Linked DNA regions of Homo sapiens: region 2 is linked to region 1. Evidence: fine-mapped expression QTL. A gene starts in region 1. The other region holds a variant in brackets. All regions are shown on one strand. Distances are between the middles of the regions. Region 1 holds the start of GPD1L (glycerol-3-phosphate dehydrogenase 1 like). Region 2 overlaps GPD1L (glycerol-3-phosphate dehydrogenase 1 like).

Region 1 (16,591 bases):
AATACACAGTGCTGGGCTAAGAGCTGGCTTCTAAACCAAAAGTAGATTATGGTAGTGTGGTTTATAAAAGAAGCAACAAATTTTCACACTGTCCCAATTTAAGGAACTGGTGAAAACGTGCAGTTGCTGGATAAAACCTGGTACACAGACCTCTTGGATAATGTAATAAAGTTTGATGTGAACAGATTACAATTGACACCTGCTACTGCTAAGTGCCTGGGTCTCTATTTGGGTCTTTCAAGCAGCCAAATCTGCCTTTTATCCATTATGTCTCTATTCCCCAAGGAAGTGAGATAAAAGCCAATATAAGTTTCCAGAAGGAGGCATTGTTTTCTTCTGCCAAAAATCTGTAATTTATCACTGGACTGTCAATAACAATATTGAAGATGGGTAATTGCATTTGAAACCGCTATACCAAGAACAAATGTCACCACCAGAGATTGTATGGTGTGTAATGAGGAAGCAAAGTTGTGATATATGTGGGGTAAGGCAGAATAGATAAAATGTTTCTCTACGGTGGTCCAAGTGTATGTTTTACTTGGAATTAGAGAAATAAATGTAACCAATATCAGCCTGTGAAAAAGTTTTCAGTGTCACAGAGAAATAAGAAAAATAAAGACTTTGGGGGAGTGTTTTCCAAAAAGATAAGTTGTTTTCTTTTAAGTTTTCATTATATGCATCCTTTTCTTATGTTGACTGACATTTTTAATGCGAAATGACATCTAGTGAAAAAGCAAGTAACAGAACAATGTGCATAGCATACTAATTAAAAACAAGAGGAGCCAGGCGCAGTGGTTTACGCCTGTAATCCCAGCACTTTGAAAGGCTGAGGCCAGAGGATCTCTTGAGCCCAGGAGTTCAAGACCAGCCTGGGCAGCACAGTGAAACTTCATCTCTACCAAAAACTTTTTAAAATTGGCCAGGTATGGTGGCTCGCACCTGTAGTCTCAGCTAGTTGGAAGGATGAAGTGAGAGGATCAATTGCTTGAAGTTAGGAGGTCAAGGCTGCTGTGAGCCATGTTTGTGCCTCTGCACTCCAGCCAGGCAACAGAGCGAAACTCTGTCTCAAAAACAAAAAAAGAGAGAGGAAAAAAATGTATTTGTATATGCATGGAATATTCTTGGAAGGATACACAAAGAAATTGGGATTGAGAACAAGGGTTTCTTCAAAGGAGGGAATTGGGCATCTGCTGTAAAAGAAAGGGATTTCACTGTATACCTCTTTAAGACTTTTGGGTTTTGAGCCAAATGGATGCATTAATTATTCAAAATATAAGTTAATTAAAGTAAGATTAATAAGATGAATTAAAATAAAATAAGATGAAATAAAATGGTAATCGGATATGGTAATAGCTTATGTCCTTACTTGGAGAAAATGGACAAGTCTCTGTCAGACATCAAAAGAATTAAAAATATTTTAATCTGTAAAATCCTGAAGTCCTATTTTTAAAAATAAATATCTAACACACTGATATTAAGTAAATATCTTCTCATTTTAGTTAAAGAAGATGCATGTATCAGTTTGTCCCGTCACTGGCAATGACTTTGACCATGTGGTTAAGGTGGTGTCAGCCAGTTTACTCTACAGTAAAGTTACTGTTTTATCCTTTGTAAACAATTTGTGTGGACACTTTAATGCTAAATAAATATCCTGTCCCACATCAAACTTTCGTCACTATTGTTAGCATCCATTGATGATTGTCTAGAGCCATCATTCTTTCCATATTTATGGGTTGACATTTGACTTGTTTGTCTGCCTTGTTTGTTTACTTATTTCCCTTCTGCCTTGTTTGTTTACTTGTTTCTTTGAATCGGTATAGGCTCATGAACTTTTATTCAAAGAGTTTAAATTCATAACTATTATTATTAATTTTAATGCATGCATTGACTCAGATTTGCCTAGTGGGAAATCCTTTTTTTTTTTTTTTTTAATACTATGGACCACAAGACCCTGCTATTTAATCTGGGCTGACTGTGTCTCTGACTGAAATGCTCCTCTCTCTCATACTTACTTATTAATTATAGTTTTCTGTTCCTCAAACATGCAGGCTCTGCACTGCCTCGGGGCCTTTACACTAGCAGTCCCCCTCCCTGGAGTTGTCTTCTTCCCACCTTCCCATGGCAGGCTCCTTCCATGCGTTCAGATGTCTCCTTCTCAGAGAATTTTTCTGGGACCATCTTGTCTAATATAAGACTAATCCCTTGGCTGGGCGCATGGCTCACGCCTGTAATCCCAACACTTTGGGAGGCCGAGGTAGGCGGATCATAAGGTCAGGAGTTCGAGACCAGCCTGGCCAACATGGTGAAATGCCATCTCGACTAAAAATACAAAAATTAGCCTGGCATGGTGGCGGGTGCCTGTAATCCCAGCTACTCGGGAGGCTGAAGCAGGAGAATCACTTGAAACCAGAAGGCAGAGGTTGCAGTGAGCCAAGATCACGCCACTGCACTCCAGCCTGGACAACAAGAGCAAAACTCTGTCTCAATTAAAAAAAAAAAAAGACTAATTTATCTCTCACTCTTACTCCCAATCTCATTCTCAGTCTCTCTTTTGTATTTCATTTTATTTACCTTTTGAGACAGAGTCTTGCTCTGTCTGGAGTGCAGTGGCACAATCATAGCTCACTGCAACCTCAAACTGTTGGGTTCAAGGGATCCCCCTGCCTCAGCCTCCCGAGTAGCTGGAATCACAACTACTCAAGAGATCCTCCTACTGGGATTACAGGTATGAACCACTGCACCTGGCCTCTCCTGTATTTTAGATATCTCCCTCTCTGTTGGCTCCTCCCCAGGACTAGTTCAACATATTCTAGCCTCCTCCACATGATGTAAAACAAACAAGCACAAAAAAACTAAAATTATTTTGCTACTCTTTAGTTTTGCCTCTCCTTTTCCTCGTGTCCCTAGCTCTCATCTTCTCACAGCCAAACTTCTAGAAAACACTGTCTACTGCTGCAGTTTGAATGTCTGTGTCTTCTCCAAAATTCATGTTGAAACTTAATCCCCAATTTGATAGTATTAAGGGGTGGGGCCTTTAGGAGGTGATTAAGTCATGAGGGCTCTAATTGGGAATTATGACTTTATTTGTTTATTTGAGACAGGCTTGCTCTATTGCCCGGGCTGGAGTGCAGTGACACAATCACTGAAGCCTTAACCTCTTGGCCTCAAGGGAGCCTCCCACCTCAGCCTCCCAAGTAGCTGGGGATATAGGTGTGCACCGCCATGCCCAGCTATTTTAAAAATTTTTTTGTAGAGACAAGGTCTTGCCAAGTGGTCCAGGCTGGTTTCAAACTCCTGGGCTCAAGCAATCCTCCCATGATAGCCTCCCAAAGTGCTGGGATTATAGTCATGAACCACAGCACCTGGCCAGATTATGACTTCATAAAAGCGATACAGGGAATTAGGCCCTTTTTTTTTTCCCTCTGCTCTTCCATCATGTGAGGACAAGCAAGAAGGCCTTTACCAGACACTGAATGCCAGCACCTTGACCTGGGACTTTCCAGGTTCCAGAACTAAGACATAAATTTCTGGGCTGAGCTCGGTGGCTCATGCCTGTAATCCCAGCAGTTTGGGAGGCCAAGGCAGGCAGATCACTTAAGGCCAAGAGTTTGAGACCAGCCTGGCCAACATGGTGAAACCCTCTCTCTACTAAAAATACAAAAATAGCCAGGCATAATGGTACAAGCCTGCAATCCCAGCTACTCAGGAGGCTGAAACACGAGAACCACTTGAACCTGAGAGATGGAGGTTGCAGTGAGCCAAGATCCTGCCATTGCACTCCAGCCTGGGCGACAAAGGGAGACCCTGTCTCAAAAAAAAGCAAACAAACAAAAAAATTCTGTTCTTTATAAATTGCCTGGTTTCAGGTATTTTGTTACAGCAGCACAAACAGACTAAGATATCTGTACTTTCTCAAGCCTCACTTCCCTACCTTCCATTTATTTATACCTCCACCCACCACACAATGAGTTTATGCTCTGCCCCAAAACTGAAAGTGACTTACTCTGACCAGATACAGAAAAAAACAGGCCTGTGGCTAGCCCATATATTGCTTTCATATGGACTGGAAAAACATTTCCCTTTTTCAAGACGCTTGCTTCCATCTATCAGAAAATAGTCATCTTAGGTATACCAATCTGCAATGTCTGCAATGTGCATGGTGCCTGCTGGTGTTGTGCAGTGTGCTACCTGCACAACCATATGAGGACCCTACCAACATCCTCCAAGCCCGAAAGATACATTACACGGCCGGGCTCAGTGGCTCACGCTTGTAATCCCAGCACTTTGGGAGGCCGAGGCGGGCAGATCACGAGGTCAGGAGCCAGACCATAGTGAAACCCCGTCTACTGAAAATACAAAAAATTAGCTGGACGTGGTGGCGGGTGCCTGTAGTCCCAGCTACTTGGGAGGCTGAGGTAGGAGAATGGCGTGAACCCGGGAGGCGGAGCTTGCAGTGAGCAGAGATCGCGCCAATGCACTCCAGCCTGGGTGACAGAGCGAGACTCCGTCTCAAAAAAAAAAAAGAAAGAAAGAAAGATGCATTATACTTTAGTCCTATCCATTTTTTTTTTTTTATGACAGTCTTGCTGTGTTGCCCAGGCTGGTCTCAAACTCCTGGGATCAAGCGATCTGCCCATCTCAGCCTCCCCAAGTGCTGGGGTTACAAGCATAGAATAGCCACTGCACCCAGCCCTAGTTTTTATTTGACCACTTTCAACTCCCCTGTGACCATCCTTCCTTCTTGAAATGTTGCCTTCCTTTGGCAACTGTGATACCACACAATGTTCTCATTGTTTCTTTCTCATCCTCTCATGCTTCTCTTCTTTAATATTAAGTCCATTCCAGAGTCTATCCTGGTTTGTCTTCCCATCTCTCTGAGTGATCCCAATCACTTTCATTCAACATTTATTGAGTGCCCACTCTGTGCTAGGCATTGTTCTAGGCACTGACCACTTGCAACTTCTAAGTACATGCTGGTAAATGACAAATGTGTCTATCTCAGGCTCACATATCCAACTGCCTCCCTGAAATCTGAACTTCGATATCAAACGACCTTCCCCCAAACTTAACTTGTCTAGAACTGAGTTCATCATCCTTCTCTCTAGATCGGTTTCTCTTCCTGGGTTCCCCATTTTAGCAAATGATATTCATTCAGTTGCCCAAGACTGATAGCTGGAGTCATCCTAGACCCTTTTCTCTCTCCCACCTGAGAAAGTAGTAAGTCTCTTTTTTCTGCTTCCTAGATATGTCTGACTTTCAATCACCTGTCTCCATCACTGTTACCACCACACTGGTCTCCATCTCACTCTAAGCCATTATGATGGCTCTTATAGAATACAGCAGCAGGCTCCTTCCTGGCCTCAGCCTTCGGGACTTTTCCCTGTGAATTCATCCAGAGCATGCTTCCTATGACACAAGACTGATGATGTTAAGCTCCTGGTGAAACCCTATAATGGTTTTTTTGGCCTTCAGGATTTCAGTTCTAATTCTTCAATATGCTTTATAAGGCCAACCATAATCAGGTACCTCCTCTACCTCTCTGCTTTTATTTATTTCCATTCCCCCTTTCCCCTCATATTCTGTCACTCATTCATTCTTCCCTCCATCCATACTAAACTCCTCTTAGCTTCTGAATATCCCATTCTCTCTCTAGACTCTGAACTTTGGCCTGTGCTGTTCCCTCTGCATGGAGCAGCTCATTAGCTGCTCTCCCACCCCTTTACTTTGCCGATGCTACCTTCTCTTCAGGTTTCAGCAGAGATCTTACTTTATCTAGGAAGCCTTCCCTAAACTCCCAAATCTGGGACAAGGGTCTTTTTCTGAGCTGCCATAGTAAGCTGGTACCATTTATCACACTAGGGTGTTTCCCTGTTCATTGGTCTACATCTTCCTTTAAATATAAGCATCTAAGAGGTCAGGAACCTTGCCTCTCTTCTTTGTTTGTTTTTGAGACAGACTCTCACTCTGTTGTCCAGGCTGGAGTGCAATGGCACGATCTCAGCTGACTGCAACCTCCACCTCCTGGGGTCAAGTGATTCTCCTGCCTCAGCCTCCTGAATAGGTGGGACTACAGGCATGCACCACCACACCTGGCTAATTTTTTTTTTTTTTTTTTTTTAGAGATGGGGTCTTGCCCAGGCTGGTCTCGAACTCCTGAGCTCAAGTGATCCGCCCACCTCAGCCTCCCAAAGTACTGGGATTACAGGTGTGAGCCACCTCATCCAGCTTTTGTTTAATATTTAATTCTTGGGACCCAGCACAGTGACCAGCACATAGTAGGTGCTCAGTAAGTACATGTAGAATAAATGAACAGTTGATAAGTGCAGGATATGAATCCAAAAATTCTGGTCCTGACTCACCACTGGACCCTTGGAAAGTGTTTATTAGTGTTGCTGTACCTTAGTGTCCTCACTTGTAATACGAATATATAATATAGAGCATGGCAATGGCAATTTTAAAACATAATCCCCAAATTCTTTGACACTTCTTTTAACGAGAGGTAGAGCCTATGTCCCTTCCTTTAGAATTTGGGCTCTGTAATTTCTTGACCAAAAGATCACAACAAAAGTGATGTCATGGCCATTTCTGGACTCAAGTCTTAAGAAATCGGCAATTTCCATTTTGTTTTTCTTGGGATGCTTCCTTGCGGAACGCAGGCACTATGCCATGGAGAAGCAGCTCCAGAGAGGCCCACGTAGAGGACTCCAGCCTCCAGCCCTCAGCTTCTGCCAAGCTCCCAGGCAGCAACACCCACAATTTGGCAGCCATTTTGGCCTCCATCTTGCTCCATCCAAGCAAATCATCTTGGAAGTGGACCTTCCAGCCCCATTTGAACATCCACCCCCATGTAAGATTCCAGAGATAAAGAAATGTTGTTTAAGATCTACATTTTGGTATGGTTTGTTATGCAACAAGCAATAATCAGGACAGATTTTGATACCTGGAAGTGGAGTATTGATAATACCATAACACGCAGCACTGGCTTTGGGACTGGGCAGCAGATACAAGCCAGAAACGCCTCTGGGAGCATGTTAGTAATGGTGTAGGAGGCTGGGAGTGAGGACTTAAAAGTGAGGGAAATGTTATCTGGAGAGAGGAAAGGGGACTCCAGTTACATAGAAAAGTTTGGCAACACTGTTGCCGTGGCCTTCTGTAATGTGGAAAATAAAAAGTGTACTTCATGAACTCAGTGACCTTTCTAAGAAGATTTCTGGGCTGAGTTTCCAAAGTGCTGCCTGATTTTTACTTGGCTAGCTAGTGGCACCTCTTTCTACCACAATGCATGAACCAGTCATGTTGTTAAAGACATTGTCTCCATGCATGAAATTATAGACACCCTATGCCAAGCTTGTCCAACCCACAGCCTATGGACCGCATGCGGCCCAACACAAATTCGTAAACTTTCTTAAAGCATTATGAGATTCTTTTTGCAAGTTTTTGTTTGTTTGTTTTGTTTTTTAGTTTATCAGCTATCATTAGTGTTTTATGTGTGGCCCAAGACAGTTCTTCCAGTGTGGCCCAGGGAAGCCAAAAGATTGGACACCCCTGCCCTAAGCCTTCTCCAGGTCCCCGAAGAGTTGGCACTGTCACAATGACAATGGCTAACCTTTTGTCTTCCAGGCTACTCAACCCTTTTGGAGAAGGTGGCAACATCGTTGGCACTGTCATCTTAGACAAAAGAGAGTGGGACTGGCAGAAGATCAGCTATCTCAAAATTGGAAAGCAGGTCACTAGTTCCTATCCACTGTGATTCGTCTGGCATTCTTCAGTCCTCTGTACTGTGGCTTCTCCTTTCCCCCATGATTTTCATTAAACATCTACACAAAAATTATTTAATATGTGCAAAATGTATAAATAACTAATCCTGCCCTTCACCATATCCATGATCCTGCATTTTGTGTGTTTCCTTTCTTTGTTTTCCTCTATGGTTTCACTACATGTGAATCCCTAGTGATAGATTTATTTTTGCTTGTTTCTTAACTAACAGAAATGGGATCACACTGTATGTATTCTCCCGAAACTTGCTTTATTCTCTCAACATTAAGTTCATAAATTTCACCTATTTGTTTTTTGTCTTAATCTTTGTAACCAGTCTGTAAAACCAAATGACTATCCTCTCTGTTCTGGCACAATGTGCTGTGCATATCAGGTGACCAGTAAACACTGTAGGATGATGCTGGGCAGGATATGTCCACAGTGTTGGGAGAAAAGCTGAGTGTTGGGAGAGAACCTGAGGCAGGGCTTGGAACATGTCAGGGGTCCAGGGTCTAAAACCCCTCGTGGCCTTTGGAATGGGTCTAGACTTGCGGGCTCCTTGCTTTTAGCACTCCCATTATCTCAAGTAGCCATATGTTTCAAAGAAAATGCTAAACTCTCACAGCTATAGCTCATTCGCTTGATACGCCACTTCCTTCCAACCCCCACATCCTCACCACCTGTTTCTTTGTTTTATCACCAATAAATAGCGTGGGCTCCCAGAGCTCAGGGCCTTTGCAGCCTCCATACTAGCGTTGGCCCCCTGGTCCCACTTTCTCTCTTGTCTTTTCTCATTCCTTTGACTCTGCTGGACTTCGTAGCACCCACAGCTTAGTGTTGGGTCTGATCACCCCAACACACAGAATAGGTGGGTAGCTCACGTTCATGCAAATGTAGTTGTAATATTCAGGAATAAGAGTTTCCAGAGAAGGTACAAAACTTTTACGTGACCCCCAAAAAATTTAAAAAAAAGAAAAAAAAACAAAAAACTTTTAGGTGGCTAGGCGTGGTGGCTCTTGCCTATAATCCCAGCACTTTGAGAGGCCAAGGCAGGAAGATTGCCTGAGACCTGGAGTTCAAGATCAGCCTGAGCAACGTAGCAAGACCCTGTTTCTACCAAAAAAAAACCTTTTTTAAAATAAACTAAAAACTTTTAGGCAACTGCTAAAAATGAATCATTTGGTGTAAAGGGACCTTTACAAAATCATTTAAGAGCAGGGACCTCTCTTAAAGGCCTGTGGATCTCCCAAGCATGGAAATAACAGAAAATCTTGAGTTCCTTCAAGGGAAATTCCAGGCACCTTCCCAGCCTTTAGAAGTAAATGAGCAAATTAATAAGCAAGAAGGTAATAGTAGCTTAAAACAATAGCCAAGGCCGGGCACAGTGGCTCACGCCTGTAATCCCAGCACTCTGGGAGGCTGAGGCAGGCAGATCACTTGAGCTCAGGAGTTCGAGACCAGCCTGGGCAACATGGCAAAATCCCGTCTCTACAAAAAATACAAAAATTAGCATTGTGACATGTACCTGTAGTCCCAACTACTTGAGAGGCTGAGGGAGAGGATCACTTGAGCTGGGAGGCAGAGGTTGCAGTGAGCTGAGATTGTGCCACTGCACTCCAGCCTGGATGACAGAGCAAGACTCTACCTCAAAATAAAAAAAAAAAATCAAAAATAAAAAGCCAAGGAAGTTAGAGTCAGAAGATGGTCCCTATAGAAACTAATGATGCATCTTAACTATGTCCCTGAGTTGTTTTTTAAAAACCCAGACCCTCACGAAATGTATCCACTGGCATATAGACCTCAGATAAGGAGGAACTGAGGATTGAACTCTGACCACTGTTCTTCAACGTCTTTCAGAGGGGCCTGAAAGTCATGTCTGCAAATCAGAACTAACATTCTTTTTTTTTCTTTTATTTTTTCTTTTTGGAGACAGTGTATCACTCTGTTGCCCAGGCTGGAGTGCAGTGGCACAATCATGGCTCACTGCAACCTCCACCTTCCAGGCCCAAGCAATCCTCCCACCTCAGTCTCCCAAGTAGCTAGAACCACAGGTCTGTGCCAGCATGGTCAGCTAATTTTTAAATTATTTTTGTAGAGATGGGGTCTCCCTATACTGCCCAGGCTGAGAACTAACGTTCTTTTCTACTGACCCCAAATTTTTAGACAAAGCTTTGTCTAAAGTTCCTTAACCAATTGCAAAAAAGAAAATCTCTGATTCACCTATGACCTGTGGGTCCCCCTCCCCCACTTTGAGATGTCCTGCTTTTTTAGGTCAAACCAATGTGTAGCTCCATGTATTGATTTATGACTTTGCCTGTAACCTCTGCCCCACGCACCTTTATTTTACTTTTTATTTTTGAGACAGGGTCTTGCTCTTTCATTCAGGCTGGAGTGCAGTGGCACAATTACAGTTCACTGCAACCTCGACCTCCTAGGCTCAAGTAATCCCCTCATCTCAGCCTATTCCGACTAGCTGGGACACCCAGCTAATTTTAATTTTTTGTAGAGACACGGTATGTGTTATCCAGCCTGGTCTTGAACTCCTGAGCTCAAGCAATCTTCCCACCCCGGCCTCCCAAAGTGTTGAGATTACAGGTGTGAGCCACCGCGCCTGGCCCCCAGCTGCCTTTAAAAACCCTTACTTGCCAGCCATCAAGGAGGAGCTACCTGATTCTCCTTGCTTGGTACCCTACAGATAAACACCCTTCTTTCTCCCTCTGCAAACCTTGGTGTGGGTATTTGGCCTTACTGTGTCAGGTGAAGGGACCCTAGTTCAGTTAGATAACATAAATATTTGCAGTGTATGTGTACTACCCAAGGACATGACTTCATTATTCAATTTGACAAATGCGTTCTGTTACACAAATACAGAAAGGATTAATAAAGCTTTACTAGTCCATCTTTCCCATTATCCCTGCATGTATCCTTGCATTAGTGCAAATAATTGAGAACAAACCATTGGTGAGGGGATGGAAAGACTGCTCTGACTCACCAGCTCCCTTTAAGTATTTCCTTAAGTAAATATCATAAGTAACACAAATAAATATTTCATACAATGTAGAGAAAAAAGCAAAAATAACAGTTCTCTGAGCATCAAACTAATAGGCTTAGTATTACTATCATTTTTTTGAAACGGAGTGTCGCTCTTGTCGCCCAGGCAAGATCTCGGCTCACTGCAACCTCCGCCTCCCAGGTTCAAGAGATTCTCCTGTCTCAGCCTCCTGAGTAGCTGGGATTACAGGCATCTGCCACCATGCCTGGCTAATTTTTTGTATTTTCAGTAGAGACGGGGTTTTGCCAAGTTGGGCAGACTAGTCTCCATCTCCTGACCTCAGGTGAACTGCCTGCCTCGACCTCCTGAAGTGCTGGGGTTATAGGCGTGAGCCACGGCACCCGGCCTAGGCTTAGTTTTTTGTAGGTACTAGAGTATTTGTTTCTTTAGCCAGAATCCACTGATATTTTAGTCTTCTGGTTCTCAATCTTGGCTTGCTTTTGCAACTACCTCTTGAACTTTAAAAAATTCTGCTCCAGCCTGGGCAACAGAAGGAGACTGTCTCAAAAAATATATGTCAATAAGTAAATATCCTGATGCCTGGATCCCACCATGGGACATTCTGATGTAACTGGCCTGCAATGGTGTCTGGGCATGGGGATTTTTAAAAGCCCCAGTGACTAATATGCAGCAGAGTTTGAGAACCACTGGTTTAAAGGACTTTGTCCTACTCTGACAGCGTCTAGCACAGTGCCTGGCAGAGACTGATGCTCAGAATGAACAAACTAAGATTCTATTTGTCAAGGAGGAGAGCATTGTGTTACTCACAAATGCAAACAAACCACAAGCAAGGGATAAGTCAGGCCCTGGGCAAAGACAATGGTAAAGCAATTCCTGCCAAGTAAGCGTGTGAGGGTGACACCCACTGAATGCAAGCTGTTGTTACCTTTTTCCCTTTATTTTTATGTATTTATTTTTTGTTGAGACAGGGTCTCACTGTCCTTCAGTCTGGAGTGCAGTGGCCCTATCCTGGCTCACTGAAGCCTCGACCTCCTGGGCACATGCAATTCTCCCGCCTCAGCCTCCTGAGTAGCTAGGACTATAGGTGCGTGCCACCATGCTTGGCTAATTTTTTAAATTTTTGTACAGAGGGGTGGGGGGTCCTAATTATGTTGCTCAGGCTGGTCTCGAACTCCTGGGCTCAAGTGATCTTCCTGACTCGGCCTCCAAAAGTGCTGGGATTACAGGTGTGAGCCACTGCACCAGGTCAAGTTTCTATCTTGACTCTAACTAGAAAAGGTGTCATCCTTGAAATGCAGGTACTGTTCAGCCAAATTCCAAAGTCCTCTGAAGATCCAAGTTCTCTAAGAAGTTCAGAGGTGCCAGGCTGTGTCTTGTTTGTGCAAATGAAACAGAGGATGACAAGGTCGGGTGGGCATTTCGAGCTCTGCCCCAAGTCTGGTCGGCTTGAGAGTCAACCTAGGAGCCTCTCTCGGCTCCAAATGGCAATGTGGCAGCCCTTCCCGAGTAGGGAAAAAGGAGCGTGTAGGGGGCACCACGGCAAGCTGGTTGGGTCTGCTCCACCCATGAGGATGGAGTGCAGCCTCCACCGGGAACCAGGGGCGCGAGTCGCTGCTCAGTGGCCTGGGCCTGCATGTGGCGCGGCGGGAGCTGCTGCCTAGGGCCGCGCAGCGACGGGGGGTGAGGACTACATGTCCCGACGTGCCTCGGGCAGGGCGGGGCGGTGCCGGAGCCGGGCCTGGAGGCCGGCCGGGGCCAGGCGTGCGCAGTGGTTCTTGGGAGTGGCGAAGCGGGTCCTGCCCCGCTGTCAGCTGCGGCCCCCGGCGCCGGGCGGGGGTGGCCGCGACCATTGGCGGAGAGGCGAAAGGGGCGGGGCCGCCGCCAGCCGCTGCGGGCAAGGCTGAACAGGCGGAGGTGGGCAGCCGGCCAGGGAAGCACGGTCCAGGCGGCTACATTCGGCCCGGCCATGGCAGCGGCGCCCCTGAAAGTGTGCATCGTGGGCTCGGGGAACTGGTGAGCGGCGGCGGGCTGGAGGCCGGGGCTCCGCTTCCAGGAAGCGCCTCTCCCGGGCGGTGAGGGCTGCGCGCCCCATGCTGCGGCGTGGGCACCGGGCACTGCGCGCAGGGAGGCGGGGTGGGCGACCTCGTTGCTGGGCTGGGCACCGTGCGCCCGAGGAGGCCGCACCGGGGCACTCGCTCGGGAGGCGCTGGGCTCGCGTGCGTGCGGGGGACAGCGCGGAGAGAGGGCACCCCGAGCACGCGGGCACCTGTCTGCGCCCCCGTTACTGAGCGCACAGAAGCCACCTGCTTGCCACGCCTGGGTGTTTTGCACAATATCCTAAGGGCGTATTCCGTTCTCCACGGCGGATCTCCTGGGTCAAGGACTTGGTGGAGGCTCGAGCATTCTTACTGCAGTTTCGGTGTTGAGGAAACCGAGGCGGAGAGGGCTAAAGGGCTCTTGCTGCCCAGGTCACGGGCGGGGCATGCTCTGCCCTTCAAGGTGCCCGTCTCGCCCCCGCTTCTGATAGGTCCACTATCTTAGGCGCGTCGTATCAGGAAGAAAATCCAAGTTTCAACAGGCCGCTCTCCCTGAGGCGTTGAGAATTCTCCCTTGCCGAGATGTTTGCGAAGCTTTGCGTCTCTTTGGGGCCTTATTTGACTTTAACATTTTATAGAGCACATTAGAAATGTCAGTTCTTCTAGTACCCTTAATCAAACGTACACTGTGGGATTCTCTGGTGTGTTTGGGTGAATGTAGAGGTGGGGGTGTGAAGGGGGAAGGAAGCAAAGTGTAGCATCTGGTGTTTCCAAGCCTTTTTTCATTGCTGTACACTCTGCCACATTGGAGGGACTGGTGTACAATAGTTAAGAGTGATGATGTCCTTTCAGTGCTTCTGTTTACCGGTTTTTCTGTGGCGTGACAGGCATCAGAAGTGCTGCAGCAGCTGGTCCTAGGTAGTTGGTCTTAGTTTTACTCTTTCAAGACTTGGCCCAGAAAGTACTTATTGAAGGAAACCTTACCTGGTTCTTCACTTTTCCATCCCAGCAAGGCCAGTGGCCTCTCTCTGTGTCCCTATTGCTGGCCTGCATCACTGCATTATAAGGAGTTATTTGATTATCTGTCTCCCAACTTTTGAGAATGGCATCTACCCTAGTGCCTGGCATATGCTAAGTCAATACTAAGACTCTGTTGCAGTGGTGCGATCTTGGCTCACTGCAACCTCCACCTCCTGGATTCAAGCGATTCTTGTGCCTCATCCACTTGAGTAGCTGGGATTACAGGTGTGAGCCACCGCTCCCTGCCTAAAAACTAATTTTTAAAACCATAATGATATTTGATTGAATAATACATTCACATTGTTTAACAACCAGGGCTGGGCGCAGTAGCTTATGCCTGTAATCCCAGCACTTTGGGAGGCTGAGGTGGGCCCAGGAGTTTGAGACTAGCCTGGGCAACACGGCAAAACCCCGCCTCTACAAAAAATAAAATATTAGTCGGGCATGGTGGCTCACGCTTGTAATCCCAGCACTTTGGGAGGCTGAGGCAGGGGGATCACGAGGTCAGGAGATTGAGACCACGGTGAAACCCCGTCTCTACTGAAAATACAAAAAATTAGCCAGGTGTGGTGGCAGGCGCCTGTAGTCCCGGCTACTTGGGATGCTAAGGCAGCAGAATCGCCTGAGCCTGGGAGGCAGAGGTTGCAGTGAGCCAAAATCAGATTGCACCATCGTACTCTAGTCTGTGTGAAGGGAGTGAAACCCTGTCTCAAAAGAACAAAACAAAACAAAAAATAAAAAACAAAAACCAAAGAGTACCAAAAACAGTGAAACATCACCCATCCACATTTATCCCCCCTGAGTACCTCCTGGAGGAAAACCAGTGTTATGAATTACTTCTGTCCTTTCTGGAGGAATTCCATGCAAGTGAATGCTTACATATAGTCCTTTCGCCCTCCACGCTGCAAATACTAGGGTATTGCATACTTTTCTGTGAGCTGCATTTTTCAACCAACAACAGAATGTTCTACACAATATTTAATAGAGTTGGTAGCTTGCTGCTGCAAAGCTTAATTTGGACTTTCAGCTTGGCTTTGCCAGTTGTTTTTTTTTATTACTATTTTTTTAGACGGAGTCTCCCTCTGTCGCCCAGGCTGGAGTGCAGTGGCGCGATCTCTGCTCACTGCAAGCTCCGCTTCCTGGGTTCATGCCATTCTCCTGCCTCAGCCTCCTGAGTAGCTGGGACTACAGGCATCCGCCACCATGCCTGGCTAATTTTTTGTATTCTTAGTAGAGACGGGGTTTCACCATGTTAGCCAGGATGGTCTCAATCTCCTGACCTCATGATCCGCCTGCCTCTTCCTCCCAAAGTGCTGGGATTACAGGCATGAACCACCGTACCCGGCCGGCTTTGCCAGTTTTAATGTCAAGCTCACTTGAGTGCAGTGTCAGCTCCCCTGTTGGCCATGCCACTTGAAAGGCACCCATTTAGCACATGTTTTTTTAACATTAGTTTTTTAGTCTGTACAATTCCACAGATGACAGCCCCTTTTCCTAATTTGCAAGATGCAGGACAAGTAGCACAGCTCTGCCATGCTGGAACTGGGCCTGGAGCAAGAGTAGTGAAGTGAGCCTCCTGCCCCCTCTGCTGGGATTTGGCTGCCTGCCCGTGGCTTCTTCATTCTGGTGTACTTGACTGTTTCCTTGGCCCACTCCAGCCCAGGGAAATGGAGTAGAACTTGGCCAGTGATACTGAAGCAGAGCAATTGAGAAATGTGCTGATGGTTTGGGCTGGCTGCCTGGCTTCATTAATTATGGGATTAGACGGGAACAATTCTTGGCTTCTGTGCCACTGCCTTGGGTACAGAGTTACTCCAGTCCTAGAGAGAGGATCACAACCTCCCCAGAGGGATTCAGGAACTCAGAAACTGAAAACAACATGGAGAAGCCCCAGAGGAGTGTTCAGCTCTAGTCAGTAGACATTTGAGTGTTGCCCGGTGAAGAGACTGTGGTCTGACCAGGGATGCAGACACAGCTGGACACAGTCCCGGTCCTTAAACAACTTACCTTCAGGTCTGAGATCAGTGAGGACATGGAAGATAAGACCGAAGGAATTGCCAAGTGGAATGGAGTAACTGCTCTGTTACACTTTAAATCGTGTTTCTTTTTTTGTTTGTTTGTTTTTGTTTTTCTTGAGACGGAGTCTCGCTCTGTCGCCCAGGCTAGAGTGCAGTGGCGCAATCTCAGCTCACCGCAAGCTTCGCCTCGCGGGTTCACGCCATTCTCCTGCCTCAGCCTCCCAGGTAGCTGGGACTACAGGCACCCGCCACCACGCCCAGCTAATTTTTTGTGTTTTTTAGTAGAGACGAGGTTTCACTGTGTTAGCTAGGATGGTCTCAATCTCCTGACGTCGTGATCTGCCTGCCTCGGCCTCCCAAAGTGCTGGGATTACAGGCGTAAGCCACTGCGCCCGGCCTAAATCGTGTTTCTTAAATTGTGGTCCCAAGACCACTTGTGTCAGAATTACCACTGAAACTAGACTTGCTTAATCATATCCCCTGAGAATGAGATTTTTTTTTCTGAAGGAACTTTAGCCTTTTGCCAATTTTAATACAGATCACCAAGAGATAGACCTACCCTTCCAGATCTGGTTCTTACCTCAGGAATGTCAAGTTGCTTAAGCAATGTTTATACTTGGAACTTTAGGGCAGCTTAGCCTGTTTGTGTAAATAAAGGTGTTTGTCACATTTGAGAACTCTCACATGGAGTGCCTCTCCCAAGTCAATTGTCATCAGTTGCAATACAGTTATCAGAATATTGAATCTAG
Region 2 (8,000 bases), 41 kb after region 1:
TTAAACAAATTTCAACATAATTGGATTCCTGGGTTATTTTAGGTGTTTTGTTTTATGCATATGAAATTCTGAGAATGAGTCCATAAACTTCACCAGACTACCAGGGGTAAGGCCCATGTCGTTGGAAAGATTAAGAACTCCCAAGAGAGGCTGTGCCAGAGCATTTACAGATGAATGTTCATGAAGGCAAACCAGAGCAACCCAAATGTCATCAGCAAGAGAGTAGACAAATGAAATGTGAACTATTCATTTTGGAATACTGTGCAGTAAGTGAACAGAAACGAACCAGAAGTTTGATGCAGCCACATGAGTGAATCTCTAAAACGGTATTGTAGTTCAAGACAGCACATCACAGGTGAATGGCACAACTCTCTTTATAGACTTGAAACCCCAGGGATAATGACGTATAACATTGTCTAGGGACCATCCGATGTGGTAAAATAGTCAAGAAAAGCAAGGGAGCAATGCATACAGCATTCAGGACAGTGGTTCACCCTGGGGAGCAGGGGTAGAAGGAGGATGAACTTGAGAGGAGACACACAGGGGACTTCAGTGGTGTCAGTCACGTTCTATTTCTTAACACGAGTGATGAGTACATGTTTATTTTCTTCATTTGATTCTTCTTTAAGCTGTACATAGGCAGTATAGATGCTTTTACTCTTGTAAGTAGGAGACATTTTTCAAGTTGTGTAGCCATGGGACATCTACTATCCCATGCCTCTTTGATTTGGCGGTTTGTTCTCTCCTAACTTCTTGGCATCCTTGTAGGGCATAGACGAGGGCCCCGAGGGGCTGAAGCTCATTTCTGACATCATCCGTGAGAAGATGGGTATTGACATCAGTGTGCTGATGGGAGCCAACATTGCCAATGAGGTGGCTGCAGAGAAGTTCTGTGAGACCACCATCGGTAAGCACTGCCTGGGAGGGACCCCAGGAGTCTGGACATTTGATGTTTGAACATGTACATATTCCATTTCTGATATTTTCTGTAATAGACTCTTCCCTGTCCCTCTTAACATTCCTTAGTTGGGCATTCAGTGGGGCGAGGGTTTTACTTAAGGAGGCTATTTTGTGGAACTGAAGTGTTTCAACAACCTCCAGAATGAATATAAATGAATATAGCCAAGAAGAGCATTCTGACTTGCTGTGATCCAATAATGAATTACTGAGGTTAAACACAAAAGTGCAAGGTTGCTTGTACCAAGAAACAGGTGGCTACATCCATGGTAGGGGTCCCCTGGCCTCAGAAGCCCAAATTTTCTTTTCTTACAAATGTTAGTATCTGGATCCTCATTGATTCCAGTGAGATCTAAAAATTGGTTGAATGACCCCCATTTTCAGGTGAATGATAAGACTCAGAGAATAAATTACCTGCCCCAAGATCACACACTAATGTAGAAGCCAGGAACAAATTTGAGTCTTCTGTTTCCTGAACTAGTAAGCCTTTTCTACTCTTACACATTATACATTAGATACATTATTCTCACATTGACGTTATGAAAATTTTCATTTCTTTTGAAAGGGGCTTTGAGAATTCTCAAGTGTCCGTGTACTATATTAAACGATGCTTTGTTGGAAGAGTAATATTATTGTATTTTCAGATGCTTTGCAAAAGTTTATCTACCACTGCAGAACTTACTTTCACCCTTATCAAACCTGCAAGCAATATGAATCATTTCCCCTTGGCAGCTTTGTAAAAGGAAGCTCTGAGAGATGTCAGGCTCTCTTGCATGAGATGAATGCGCAGGAAAATGTAGCTCCAGATTCTTATACCTGCCTATACGTAGGACTTTTTAGGATTTTTTTGGAATTTTCTACCTTAATTTTTATTTTTAATTATGGAGGTATTTTACATGATTATTATGGAAGATAGAGATAATCAAAAGAAAGCCATTTTAAATTTTTGATAATTTTGTTATATATCCTTTTTTACTATTTGTATGAACTATTATGTTTGTAGTGAATCATATGCTGTTTAATAATTGCTTTATTCGCTGAATATGTAACAAAAACCTTTCAGAGTCTGTTAACATACTGTACATCCTCATAACTGCATAGCATTCCATCAGCAATTCCATATATTTGGATACAAAACTTTTTTTTGAAAAATAATATTTGTTGGAGAGGAGAAGTATCACAAATAATACAAAGAAGAAAAGAATAGCCTATGATACCACCTGCCCAGGTTGTCATTTACGAAAGTGATACAGACACAGGTTTAAAAAAAAATTCAAGCACCATGAGAAGGTGGAAAAGTAGAACTAAGATTGTAATTTCCCACCCATTTCCCTCTTCCCAGAGGGAATCACTGTTAGCAGTTTCTTTTTTGTTTTTTATAATTGCAACTTTTATTTTAGATTCGGGGGTACATGTGCAGGTTTGTTACATGGGTGTATTGCATGATGCTGAGGTCTGGGTTATGACTAATCCTGTCACCCAGGTAGTGAGCATAGTACCCCACAGGTAGTTTTTCAATCCTTCCCTCCTTTCTCTCCTCTCTAGTAGTCCCCAGTATCTGTTGTTGCTATCTTTATGTTCATGGGTACCCAATGTTTAGCCCTCACTTGTAAGTGAGAACATGCAGTATTTGGTTTTCTGTTCCTATGTTAACTCACTTAGGATAATGGCTTCCAGCTGCATCCATGCTGCAAAGGACATGATTTTCTTTTTTTTTTTTTGAGATGGAGTCTCACCCTGTCGCCAGGCTTGAGCGCAGTGGTGCTATCTTGGCTCACTGCAACCTCCAATTCCCTGGTTCAAGCGATTCTCCTGCCTCAGCCTCCCAAGTAGCTGGAATTACAGGCATGCGCCACCACGCCCAGCTAATTTTTGTATTTTTGGTAGAGACAGGGTTTCACCATGTTGGCCAGGATGGTCTTGATCTCCTGACCTCATGATCCACCTGCCTCAACCTCCCAAAGTGCTGGGATTACAGATGTGAGCCACCGCGCCCGGCTGATTTCATTCTTTTTTAATGGCTTTTACTATTAGCAGTTTCTAAATATTCTTCTGGAAAAAATTTATTTATATTTGTATGCTAGTATGTACATATATGAATATGTCTTATTCTTTTACAGTAAATTCTTTTATTTATCTGCAGTTTTAATATAGCCTGTGAAATTGTTATGTAATTACTTATATTTTCCCAAAAAGATTAACTAGTTTGTTCCAACTCAATCCTATTTGCCAATAATCCTTTCCCAGTTCATTCTGGAAGACTAAATCTTAATCTGCAATCCCAATCCCTGATCCAATCCTGGCTAGGACTCTAGCCCTGTTTGTTGTAGGAAAGTTTCTAGTTGGGTACATTAGGCTTTTTTGGTTTTAAAAAACAGATAAAAGCACATAAGTTGCATTTCTTTCCCTCTGGCATTTCTTTACCCGGTGCTTCTATGCCTTCTCTGTGGGGTGGAGTGTGATAAGCACTGATGACCTGAATTAAATTAAGTAAAGCATTTCTGGGTGGAGTAGCTCTCGTGAGGCTAAAGCCGAGGATCTTCTGAGGCCAAGAGTTTGAAATCACCCTGGGAAATGTAGCTGGGAGTTTCCAAAAAAGAAAAAAAAAAATTTTTTAATTAGCCTGGTATGGTAGTACATACCTGTAGTCCCAGCTACTCAGGAGACTGCTGTGGGAGGATCACCTTGAGGCTAGGAGATTGAGCGAGGCTGTAGTCACTGCAGTGGCTATGATCACGTCATTGCACTCCTGCCTGGGTGACAGCAATACCCTGTCTCTTTAAAAAAAAAAAATTTAAGTAAAACATTGAAAGTAAGATAGAATATGAAAGTGATGTTTAAAAATTGTTTTATATAACCTGAATTAATTAATTTTTAAAAGTAGAGTCTTGTTCGAATTCCTGGCCTCATGGGATCCTCCTGCCTCAGCCTGCTGATGTACCGGGATTACAGGTGCG[A/G]GCCACTGTGCCCAGCCTATAACCTGAATTTAATCATGAGAAAATATCAGACAAGCCCAAAGTAAGAGATATGTTATAAAACAACAGGCCAATGGTATCTTTGACTCTTCAAAAAAGTCAGTGTCATGAAAGACAATGAAAGGCTAAAGGAGTGTCCCAGAATAAAAAGGACTAAAGATATATTACCGAGCCAGGCGTGGTGACTCACACTTATTATCTTAGCACTTTGGGAGGCCAAGGTGGGAGATCACTTGGGCCTAGGAGTTTGAGACCAGCCTGGGCAACATAATGAGATCCCATCTCTACAAAAAATACAAAAATTAGCCAGGTGTGGTGGCGCACACCTGTAATCCCAGCACTTTGGGAGGCTGAGGCGGGCGGATCACCTGAAGTTAGGAGTTTGAGACCAGCCTTGTCAACATGACAAGCGAAACCTCATCTTTACTAAAAATACAAAAATTAGCCAGGTGTGGTGGTGCACGCCTATGGTCCCAGGTACTCGAGAGCCTGAGATGAGAGGATTGCTTCAGCGTGGGAGGTGGAGGCTGCAATGAGCAGTGATCGCACCATGGCACTCCAGCCTGGGTGACAGAGCAAGACCTTGTCTCTAAAAATCAAAAAGGAGACATGAGCACTATGTGCAGTGTGGGGTCCTGGATTAGGCAGGGAGGGTTGCTGTGGAAGACAATGCAGAGGTGATTGGTGAGGTTTGAATGTGGATTATATGTTAGATAATAATATTATGTAAACATTACATTTTCTGTATTTGATCATTGCAGTGTGGTTATCCAGACATCCTTTGTTGATGCATAGGGACTATTTTAAATTGCGGTAGGTTCAGGAATCGTGGCCCACTTGAATCTTCTGTGGAGGGAAAAGATAGGGCAGCTTCAGGCCTCAAAATCCTGTCATGGTGAACTACAGTGCCCTCTTGTGGTAAGGTCTCCTTTCGTTCTTGGGGCATACCACAGACTCTGAGGCTTTTAATCCAGTCATTCCACAAATATTTTTCAAACCCTCTTATGTATCAGGCATGGTGCCAAATGTCTAGAATACATAAGCTCCTTATGGAACTTGTAAGCACACAAACACATATGGAATCACAAACTAAAATAAGGGTTTTGAAGGAGTTTTATTACATAGGTTAATTGCCTCTAAAACTTGGTGTGACAGAGAAAGGGGATTTTCCTGTCTTTGGTTTACATTGAGTTTTGGGCAACCTTCCCACATGGCTGTCCGGCATTAGCTGTTCTGTACAGATGCCCTGAGTCCCTGCTTGCCATGTCACTGTTTATTACTGGGGTTTGTTGTTGTTGTTGTTGTTGTTTTTGAGATGGAGTCTCACGCTGTTGCCCAGGCTGGAGTGCAGTGGCGTGATCTCGGCTCACAGCAACCTCCGCCCCCTGGGCTCAAATGATTCTAATGCCTCAGCCTCCTGAGTAGCTGGGAACACACACACACACACACACACACACACACACCACCACGCCAGGCTAATTTTTGAATTTTTTGTAGAGATGGGATTTCGCCATGCTGACCAGGCTGGTCTCGAACTCCTGACCTCAAGTAATCCACTTACCTGAGCCTCCCAAAGTGCTGGGATTACAGGCATGAGCCACCGCGCTGGCTTATGACTGGTATTATATTAATAATAAAATTCGCGGGCCGGGTGCGGTGGCTCATGCCTTTAATCCCAGCACTTGGGAAGGCCAAGGCAGGTGGATTGCTGGAGGTCAGGAGTTCGAGACCAGCCTGGCCAACATGGCGAAACCCCATCTTTACTAAAAATACAAAACTTAGCCGAGTATGGTGGCGCATGCCTATAGTTGCAGCTACTCAGGAGGCTGAGGCGGGAGAATCGCTTGAGCTTGGGAGGTGGAGGTTGCAGTGAGCTGAGATAGTGCCACTGCACTCTAGCCTGGGCAACACAGCAACTCTGTCTCATAAATAAATAAATAAAGTTACTACCTATTATCCATGATTTAAGGTAATAAATTTTAAAAGGTACCTTTGAGAAAATATGAGATTGCTATAAATCAAGCCCACCTCTTGGATGGGCATTGCGTTATTTGCAGCCACAAAGGAACCCATAGACCCTACCTTGTATCTATGGCAAGCCAAGAGTGTGCCTTCCCCTGCCCATTCCTCAGTTTGTTCACCAGCAACCCAAGTTTCCAGCTGCAGATGGCTGGATTAAAGTGACTTGAGGGAGGGGCTGGTCTGCAATGTTCAGGAGCATGCTTCATGTTGGAGGCACTGAGCAGTGGGAGGAGACACGATGAGGCTGTAATATGATGTAGGGGCCAGGGGCTGGTTTACCCAACCCAGATGATGCAACAGTGTTGCACAGAGTCACCTAGACAGCCTGGTGGACTGTTTAAAAAGGAAGAGAACAGTTTGCACAAACTGACATAGTTCTAACATTTGGAAAAGGGGAACTCAGCTAAATGAAAGAACAGTAATGCTACAGAGTAGACTGTGTTTCTAAGTATTGGGTGTAGATATTGTGTTTTATTATGAAACTTTTCAGAAAAGTAGAGTAGTATCACGAACCTCACATGCCCGTCACCCATCTTTAGAAATGATTAACTCCTGGCCAGTCTCATTTCATCCACTCCCCACCCTCTCTCAACCCTCAGATGGCCTGGATTATTTTGACATTGTGTCACTTCTTGGTGTAGTTTTACTTGTTGACAATCATGCTTTTTTCTTTTTTTTTTTTTTTTTTTTTGAGACAGAGTCTCGCTCTGTTGCCCAGGATGGAGTGCAGTGGTGAGATCTCAGCTCACTACAGCCTCCACCTCCTGGGTTCAAGCGATGCTCCTGCCTCAACCTCCTGAGTAGCTGGGACCACAGGTACGTGCCACCACGCCCAGCTAATTTTTTGTATTTTTAGTAGAGATGGGGTTTCACCATGTTAGCCAGGATGGCTTCAATCTCTTGACCTCGTGATCTGCCCGCCTCAGCCTCCCAAAGTGCTGGGATTACAGGTGTGAGTCATCGTGTCTGGCCAAAAAAAACTTTAGATTCACATTCGGTCAGTTAAAAATGTATGTCAAATTGTAAATGATCACCTCGATTGGAAACGGGATATTTTTACTTTATTTCTGCTCCTATGTGTTTTCTAAATATCCTATCATGAACATGTTACTTTTATAGTAAGTAGAAACTTATTTTAAAGTGTATTAGGTGTGAAAATTAAGATTAGAGGCTGTTATTAATATCCTTGTTGTCTAACCTTTCAACAGGCAGCAAAGTAATGGAGAACGGCCTTCTCTTCAAAGAACTTCTGCAGACTCCAAATTTTCGAATTACCGTGGTTGATGATGCAGACACTGTTGAACTCTGTGGTGCGCTTAAGGTAAAGTCAGCCTCAGGGGAGGAGTTCATCAAGCAAGGCAAATGTTAGCATCATTGAGTCTAATCCTCAAGAATGGGCTCTGTGTTCTGTGCACCCACATCAGCGAAGAATAGTGAATTGAGAGTCTTGTTTATAACTTCCTGTTTTGCTGCAGCCTTTCCCGGGTGGTTCAGTTCCTCTCTTACTCGTGGCTTGCTTTAACTTGTAAATATGGGGGAATTGTGATGTTTTGGTCTTTGGGAAGTTGGCAGCATTGATATTTGGAAAGCATGGGAGTTCCTTGATGACAGGGTTTCACCCAGGAGCAAATGATTCTATTCATTCATGTTTTTCTCCCACACTTCATCCTGAGCAGGAAAAGGAACTTGTTTCCTCTGAATTATGCTACTCTACTAGTTTGGCTGGTTGTTCTTATTAAGGGAAAAAATAATCTGCTGCTGGTAGAGGTTTTTCTAAGAATAGTTTTGTCTTTGCCCTCAAGAGAGAGAAGATGTGATTAAAGAAATGCACTCCACTGGCCAGTGGCTTGCTGGATTTTTGTAAGTGGAACTGTACAGTATGCACTCTTTTGTGTCCGGCTTCTTTGATTGGAGGTGTATTTTTGTTTGTTTTAATGTAAATTTTAAGAGGTACTTCATACAGAAAAGTACAAAAATCATAAGTATGTAGTTTATGTTATCTTTTTTTCCCCTCTTTTGAGGTAAAGGGAGGTCTCCACACCTGGG

The links.
Region 2: its variant is fine-mapped to the expression of GPD1L in whole blood (TOPMed, PIP above 0.99). The same link has a PIP of 0.9 or more in T cells.

Annotation. Positions count from the first base shown.
Region 1 is chr3:32,093,978-32,110,568 of GRCh38, forward strand. GPD1L (glycerol-3-phosphate dehydrogenase 1 like) reads left to right here and starts at 12,643. Exons shown (of 8, transcript NM_015141.4): 1 at 12,643-12,781. The coding sequence starts at 12,735. RefSeq lists silencers at 4,307-4,406, 12,376-12,785, 12,906-13,045.
Region 2 is chr3:32,139,460-32,147,459 of GRCh38, forward strand. GPD1L (glycerol-3-phosphate dehydrogenase 1 like) reads left to right here. Exons shown (of 8, transcript NM_015141.4): 4 at 769-907; 5 at 7,163-7,275. Among named protein-coding and RNA genes, the nearest start is that of GPD1L, 37 kb to the left of the region's middle. The variant A/G (reference allele first, on the strand shown) is at 3,915.